Linked DNA regions of Homo sapiens. The protein of the gene in region 1 purifies or fractionates together with the protein of each later gene. This does not show direct contact. Each region holds a gene or a part of one and is shown in the gene's direction. Other genes may lie near its edges.

Region 1 (4,291 bases):
CCAGAGGAAACAATGACTGTCATAGGATATGACTCTGAGATCAATGTAGCATTACCATCACTAAATACTAGAGAGATGCAAGACTTCTGTTTTTAGAGGCTTCTGGATTTTTTTTTCCACATGTTTTGAATAAAAGAAATTTCAACAGCTTTTTACTTATGAGACTGTGGAGACAATTATTATTGCAGCCATTATGCAAAATAAATTGCTTTGCTTTTCATATTCATTCCATTTGTTCAATCATCCATCAGAGATGTTTTGAAGGCCTGCTGTGTATCAAGCACTGGGCTAGGTGCTAGGATGTGACAACAAGGCCCTGAGCATTCCAGCCTTCTCTGAGTTTATAATATACAAATGATCAGTCTTAAGTGAGAGAAGTTCTAAAAAGAACCTTCCTTAGAGGGAACAAGGGAACCAGCTTAACCATGGCTGGGGAAGATTGCCTGAGGAGGGGATGAAAGGCTGATATTTGAAAGATTAGGTAGGAATTTGCCATGGTGTCCATCCATGGATCCTTCCTTGTGCCTTCTGTCTTTATCTTAACAATTCCCTTGCCAAACTTCCTTGAACTTCCCTTGTACACGATAATTCTGTTGCTTTTCTCTATACCTATAAACTTTTCCAGGGGATTGAATTATTTTTGACCACTTTTGACCTACGAATGTGACAATTTCAACAACTCAGTGTATAGCTGTGACACTTTCAGGCTAAAAGGTTCTGGTCTCTTAAAATTATGGTATCACATTGTACTCTTTTTAACATTTATTGTAAGCAATCCATCATTAACTGAAAACATCCCAGTTATTTTCCATCAAACAATTCTCTTTCAGATTATTTTTTCTAAACCATTTTCTTCCAAGTTGAGTCATATTTTTTCTGCTTATTCATCATTTCATCTGATAGTGGGGTCAGTGATTCTGCCTCTATGCTTTCGGCTGTACCTCCAATTCCTTTTCTTAGCTTGTTTATTCTTTCCTCCATGACATTGTTGAGAAATAAATCAGTTCTATGGACTATCAAAATTAATCAAATGCTTTTCCAGAAGGTATGAGCTCTCTTGAAGGATTGCTTCTATTTCACTGTTTTTGAGGGTAAGGCAAGGTTATACAAAAATGGCAAGAGCTGGTAGGCTGCTGGTATTTGTTTTTAAGACTGCTGTTATCAAATCTGTGAAAACAATTTAATTTCACACATGCCCACAGACAGGCACAGAGAATTGTGAACTTAAAAAGAGACAGAAAGACTAGAACCTTTACTATATAGAACCTTTACTATAATGAAATTAAAGTGGTTTTGAGCTTTACATAATCACATATCTACCCCCTTTCTCATCATCCCACAACTACTATGGAAAACTTTACTCTGTCAACCTTAGTTTATCTATGATTAAAATTAGAAACACATCCTTGGGCCTTTCTTTGCATGCCATTTTTCCACGGTTTCAAAAAGATAAGCTTCGCCTATAAAAGGAGTTTTTGTTGCTATCTGGTTGCGTGTGGAACCTGACGGAACTGCCACGGTGAGTCGGGAACATGTTTTCCAGGCCTAATTGATCAGAATGTATCCATTTTCCCCCAGAGGTCTAAATGAACTAAAACTTGCCGATCTTTTAAAAACTTAGCCAGACTCAATCATGTTTTTAATTTCGTGTAGATGCTGCCACTTTGGACTCTTTCACTGCTGCTGGGAGCAGTAGCAGGTAAGAAAACAAATAAATGTTGAGCTGGGAGAGATTCACTTTTCAACACGGTCAGGAGGGCTAGGGCAGCTGAATTCAGGCCGCAGTAATAACATGAAGATTTACTTCAAGGAGTAAAGCACAGGAGACGCATAAGAGCACAGGTACATGGAGTAGGGTTGTCAGAAAACATCTAAGATGCCCAGTTAAATTTGAATTTCAGATAAACAGCAAATATTTCCCACAAACAACAAATATGTGACATATCTATACTAAAACATTATCATTTATCTGAAATTCAAATTTACTTGTATTTTGATTTGCTAAATCTAGCAACCCTGACATCAAGTCAAGTTAAGAGTTTGAACCTTGGCTCCACCACCACCTACAACTGTATTACCCTGAGCAAAATTCTTAACTCTTCTGTGCTTCAGAATCTTTGTCTGCAAAATGGGGAGAGTCGGATTCCCCATCTCCTAGGATTATTGTGAGAATTAGGTCAGATTAGTAAACCATCCAACCCAGCACCTGACACATGGTAAGATGTTGAGAAACGCAGCCCCCACAACAGCTGCTACTCTTACTCCTACCATTAATCTAGATTTATCCTCCTTAGAGAAGAGAACCCTTCTTTGGGTTATTTTTTTATGGAGTGACATTCAAGCCTAGAGTTGTGTTAAACCATGGATTTTTGGTTTGGTTGTTTGTGAACAGCTTCTTCATCACAGGAATGAAGATGTCCTGCAGTACAGCAAGGATGGGGATATACGGTTTTGGCCTTTCCATAAAATTTTAGCTCTCCTTTCAAAGCCCACAGCTAAACAGTGGCTACAAGAAGTTAAGGCTTAGGGACACAGGGCTGTCCCTTTCTTGAGCACCTATAGCCCAAGGAAGATATCTGAGTTTAGAGGCTAAAAGGAGTCCCACGTTGGGATTGGGCAGAGACACAAGGGGAGTGAAGTGATCCATGTGGTAGAATTGAGGAACAAGAACAACAGCCTGTCTGGAATAGTTGTGTTGTCTTTTGAAGCTGTTTTGTGAGTGTGTGGCTAGGAGGGTGTTGAGAGTAGCAGAGGAGGAAAGTCTACCACACAGTGTAATTGAACTCATATATTGGCAGACAGATCATTAAAAAGAGCATGTTTGTAAAACTAATATCCTTCTGGGGGATTGCAGGAAAAGAAGTTTGCTACGAAAGACTCGGCTGCTTCAGTGATGACTCCCCATGGTCAGGAATTACGGAAAGACCCCTCCATATATTGCCTTGGTCTCCAAAAGATGTCAACACCCGCTTCCTCCTATATACTAATGAGAACCCAAACAACTTTCAAGTAAGAACTATCACTGTGTTTAGAACTAAGTTCTTTGGGAGGCCGAGGCGGGCGGTTCACGAGGTCAGGAGATCGAGACCATGCTGGCTAACATGGTGAAACCCCATCTCTACTAAAAATACAAACAATTAGCCAGGCGTGGTGGCAGGCGCCTGTAGTCCCAGCTACTCGGGAAACTGAAGCAGGAGGATGGCGTGAACCCGGGAGGCAGAGCTTGCAGTAAGCCGAGATCGCGCCACTGCACTCCAGCCTGGGCGACACAGTGAGACTCCATCTCAAAAAAAAAAAAAAAAAAAAAAAGAAGAAGAACCAAGTTCCACCTGTTTTCTGTAATAAGGATACTGAATATTCAAGTTCTTAAGAGAAAAAAATCAGCCGTGAAATTTGCATCTTTGTAGATATTCAGGGCACTGAGCTTAGGTATTACTTAATGTAAATTGTTTATAAAAGATTCATTAACTTCATATTATTCTTGTCCTTCCTCTATAACATTTAATAAATATTGTAAATGTAGGGCTATATTTATACATATAAAGTATATAAACATTCCCAATATTATATATTTATGTAATCTCCTATTATATATATGTATCTCTACATAGATAAAGACATATAAAAATACACACACGCACACACACACACACAAAGCCTTCCATTGTATGAAGAAAAGATCATTACCACCAAGATTATAACAGACATATTATCCCAAGTTGAACAATGGCAAACATGTTGTGATGACTGGGAAATGGCAACATGATGATGATAGTGAATACTGTGGTTGCTATGGAGGAATCATTATTCACAAGGATCCTGAATCCTAGCAGTCTTCTACTTACTGCCCCTCTCCATGTACAAATGGTTCTATTGGCTACTATAGGAAACTGACATGAAACACTTTTCTGTCTAAACAGGAAGTTGCCGCAGATTCATCAAGCATCAGTGGCTCCAATTTCAAAACAAATAGAAAAACTCGCTTTATTATTCATGGATTCATAGACAAGGGAGAAGAAAACTGGCTGGCCAATGTGTGCAAGGTGAGATGTGGTCATCTCTCAAGGAAAGATCGTTTCCAAAGTGGTAATTAACAAACGGTAAGGCACTGGCCCCGACCAATGAGGACAGTGCTTGGAGGTCTTGGAGGATATTCAGACCCCTGCTGGGCCTGGAGTTCCTAGGGGAGGTCAAGGAGGTGGTGGTGGGAAGAGGGGGTTTAGGATGGTCAGAGCAGTGAGGCTGGCAAGCACTTGGTGGATCTAGGCAGTGGTTATTTAATAACTGATAT
Region 2 (3,500 bases), on another chromosome or scaffold:
GCACATCCCTTAAAGAAAAAATACTTGAGGTCACTGTGCTGAGGCCCAGAATTTAACCACGGCCAGTAAGAACCATCAACAGAGAACGGCATTTCTGGGATGACTGTTTTAATCTTACAACAATTTATCTGAAAGGAGAAAAGAGAAAGCTGATTTTTTTTTTCTGATTCTTTTTTTTTTTTTTTTTTTGAGACAGAGTTTCACTTTTTCGCCCAGGCTGCAGTGCAGTGGTGCAATCTCCTCTCACTACAACCTCCGCCTTCCGATTTCAAGAGATTCTCCTGCCTCAGCCTCCCGAGTAGCTGGGGCTACGGGCACAGGCTGCCACGCCCAGCTATTTCTTTCTGATTCTGAAACAAAGTATTTATCGGCCATGCCTGCTGTTGGCTGCTCGGGCGACACGGTATTTCCTCGGTATTTCCTCGTTGCAGCTCCCAGGTCAGGCTCTGGGTCCCTGTGAGAGGCGGGTGGCCGCCATGGCTCTGCTGCCTCCCGTGTGGGGTAGTGACGGGGCCTTCCGAAGCTTGACTGCTTGGTTAGTTTTGTTTTGAGAGCCTGTGATGTTTCAAGATTTTTACTGCATCTTTTTATGTAGCTATTTTTATAACATGAGTAGAGGTTGAAATAGTTTTTTTCTCTCTGAAATCTCAATTCAGTCTGTCTTCCTTTTTCCTGATAAGCAGGAAGCATCCTATGCTTCTTGCCTTAGAATTACTGATTTAGGCTATTGCTTTGGTGAGGCCACATCTTGTTTTCCTCTGTGGTCCTGGAGTTTGCGTTGTGGTGAGGGGTGGAGCACATCCACCCTTCAGCTAGCGCCAATTAGGTCCCTGTGGGAAAGGGGCCCCAGCCTAGCACCAATGAAGGCTGGGCCCTGGAGTGTGCAGTGGCTGAACAGTCACAACCTGTGTTTCTCCCACCTGCATACATGCCAGGACATACACACATGCATCCCTGCACACGCACACATACATGTGTACATGTGCACACGTGTACAGAGACATGCATACACCCGTGCACACATGGACACAGGGCATCCATGCACAGGTGCACATGTATACATGTGCACATGTGTACAGACACATACACACAGGGACACATGGGCATGTCATACCCATATGCACACACACTGGCCTGAGCTGTGGAAGCTGCTGGTGCGGTCCCTGCACGTGTGGCCGCCGGGGCTGAGGGCCTACCGCGAGGTGTCCTCTATGTTGCTAGGAGGTCAGCGCTCACAGCTCAGGTCCCTTCCACCCAGTGGTGGAGGCAGTAGGGGTGTGGGGAGCCTTCTGCTGCAGCCCTGTTTCCCGCCCTGCGACCCACCCCGAGTCCCCTCTGTGTCCCACCTCATGTCCACCCTGTGTCCAGCCTTGTGTCCAGTCTGTGTCCCGCCCTGTGTCTGCCCTTTGTTTACCCTGTGTCCATCCCGTGCCCGCCTGTGTCCACCCTCTTCCTCCTCACTTGGAGCTGCCCCCACCCACCTGCCGTCGCAGCCCCTTTAGAGGTCACCAGCCCTGACCCTTTCGTCGCCCAGGGCCCTGCGGTGCTCTGCCTGTGGCCCTGCTCCCACTGCCTTGGAGGGAGGCTGCTCACAGCGCTTCATGCCGGGCACTGAGTGGTGCAGAGTCTTCGAGAAACCTTTACTTTTTAAAATTTTTTTATTAAAAATAAAACTATTAACTGAAACTGCAGACTCTATGGCTTTTCCACCCGTGCCTGTTCCGTTCTGGGACCCGGTTTTGTCCTGGCGTCTCCTCCCTCCCTCCCTGGTCTGTGAGTCTCCCAGACTTTCCTGTGCAGGATTCCGACCTTGACAGTGTCAAGCAGGCCTGTCATGGCGTCTGTAGAGCGTCCCTCACGTTGGGTCCGTCTGGTGTTTCCTCGCAATTAGACTGGGTGATGGGTTTTGGGAAGACGCCCACAGAGGTGCGGGGCCCTTCCCGTCACACCGTATCAGGGTCCTGACGTCCGCACGGCTTTCTGATCACCCGGCCAAGGTCTGCCTGCCAGGTGTGCCCTCTGACAGGTCCCTGCTTTCCCGCCCGCTCTGTCCTCTGGAAGCCGCTCACTGGGTCCAGCCCCCGCCTCCTGAAGGGAGTGTCTGCGGACATTATGTGGAATTCCTCTGTGAGGAAGATCTTGTTACTTACTTGTTTGTGGTCACTGATTTTGTCACTATGGACCCACGCCCATTTATTTTCCCTCTGGGTCGTGATCCCGTGCTGTCACCGTGAGTCTGTGTCTGGGTCGTGATCCCATGCTGTCACCGTGAGTCTGTGTCTGGGTCGTGATCCCGTGCTGTCACCGTGAGTCTGTGTCTGGGTCGTGATCCCGTGCTGTCACCGTGAGTCTGTGTCTGGGTCGTGATCCCGTGCTGTCACCGTGAGTCTGTGTCTGGGTCGTGATCCCGTGCTGTCACCGTGAGTCTGTGTCTGGGTCGTGATCCCGTGCTGTCACCGTGAGTCTGTCTGGGTGGTGATCCCGTGCTGTCACCGTGAGTCTGTGTCTGGGTCGTGATCCCGTGCTGTCACCGTGAGTCTGTGTCTGGGTCGTGATCCCGTGCTGTCACCGTGAGTCTGTGTCTGGGTCGTGATCCCGTGCTGTCACCGTGAGTCTGTGTCTGGGTCGTGATCCCGTGCTGTCACCGTGAGTCTGTCTGGGTCGTGATCCCGTGCTGTCACCGTGAGTCTGTGTCTGGGTCGTGATCCCGTGCTGTCACCGTGAGTCTGTGTCTGGGTCGTGATCCCGTGCTGTCACCGTGAGTCTGTGTCTGGGTCGTGATCCCGTGCTGTCACCGTGAGTCTGTGTCTGGGTCGTGATCCCGTGCTGTCACCGTGAGTCTGTGTCTGGGTCGTGATCCCGTGCTGTCACCGTGAGTCTGTGTCTGGGTCGTGATCCCGTGCTGTCACCGTGAGTCTGTCTGGGTCGTGATCCCGTGCTGTCACCGTGAGTCTGTGTCTGGGTCGTGATCCCGTGCTGTCACCGTGAGTCTGTGTCTGGGTCGTGATCCCGTGCTGTCACCGTGAGTCTGTGTCTGGGTCGTGATCCCGTGCTGTCACCGTGAGTCTGTGTCTGGGTCGTGATCCCGTGCTGTCACCGTGAGTCTGTGTCTGGGTCGTGATCCCGTGCTGTCACCGTGAGTCTGTGTCTGGGTCGTGATCCCGTGCTGTCACCGTGAGTCTGTCTGGGTCGTGATCCCGTGCTGTCACCGTGAGTCTGTGTCTGGGTCGTGATCCCGTGCTGTCACCGTGAGTCTGTGTCTGGGTCGTGATCCCGTGCTGTCACCGTGAGTCTGTGTCTGGGTCGTGATCCCGTGCTGTCACCGTGAGTCTGTCTGGGTCGTGATCCCGTGCTGTCACCGTGAGTCTGTCTGGGTCGTGATCCCGTGCTGTCACCGTGAGTCTGTGTCTGGGTCGTGATCCCGTGCTGTCACCGTGAGTCTGTGTCTGGGTCGTGATCCCGTGCTGTCACCGTGAGTCTGTCTGGGTCGTGATCCCGTG

The links. Proteins that work in one complex are often made in the same cells at the same time.
Region 2: the proteins of PNLIP (region 1) and LMF1 purify together in Homo sapiens (affinity purification with western blotting, with the first as the bait; one study listed by BioGRID). This does not show direct contact.

Annotation. Positions count from the first base shown.
Region 1 is NC_000010.11:116,544,440-116,548,730, forward strand, and holds the start of PNLIP (pancreatic triacylglycerol lipase precursor), read left to right. Parts: upstream 1-1,491; 5' UTR 1,492-1,519; intron 1,520-1,653; coding exon 1,654-1,699; intron 1,700-2,854; coding exon 2,855-3,009; intron 3,010-3,920; coding exon 3,921-4,043; intron 4,044-4,291. UniProt on the Homo sapiens protein: Plays an important role in fat metabolism.
Region 2 is NC_000016.10:960,985-964,484, reverse strand, and holds part of LMF1 (lipase maturation factor 1), read left to right. Parts: intron 1-3,500. UniProt on the Homo sapiens protein: Involved in the maturation of specific proteins in the endoplasmic reticulum. Required for maturation and transport of active lipoprotein lipase (LPL) through the secretory pathway. Each LMF1 molecule chaperones 50 or more molecules of LPL.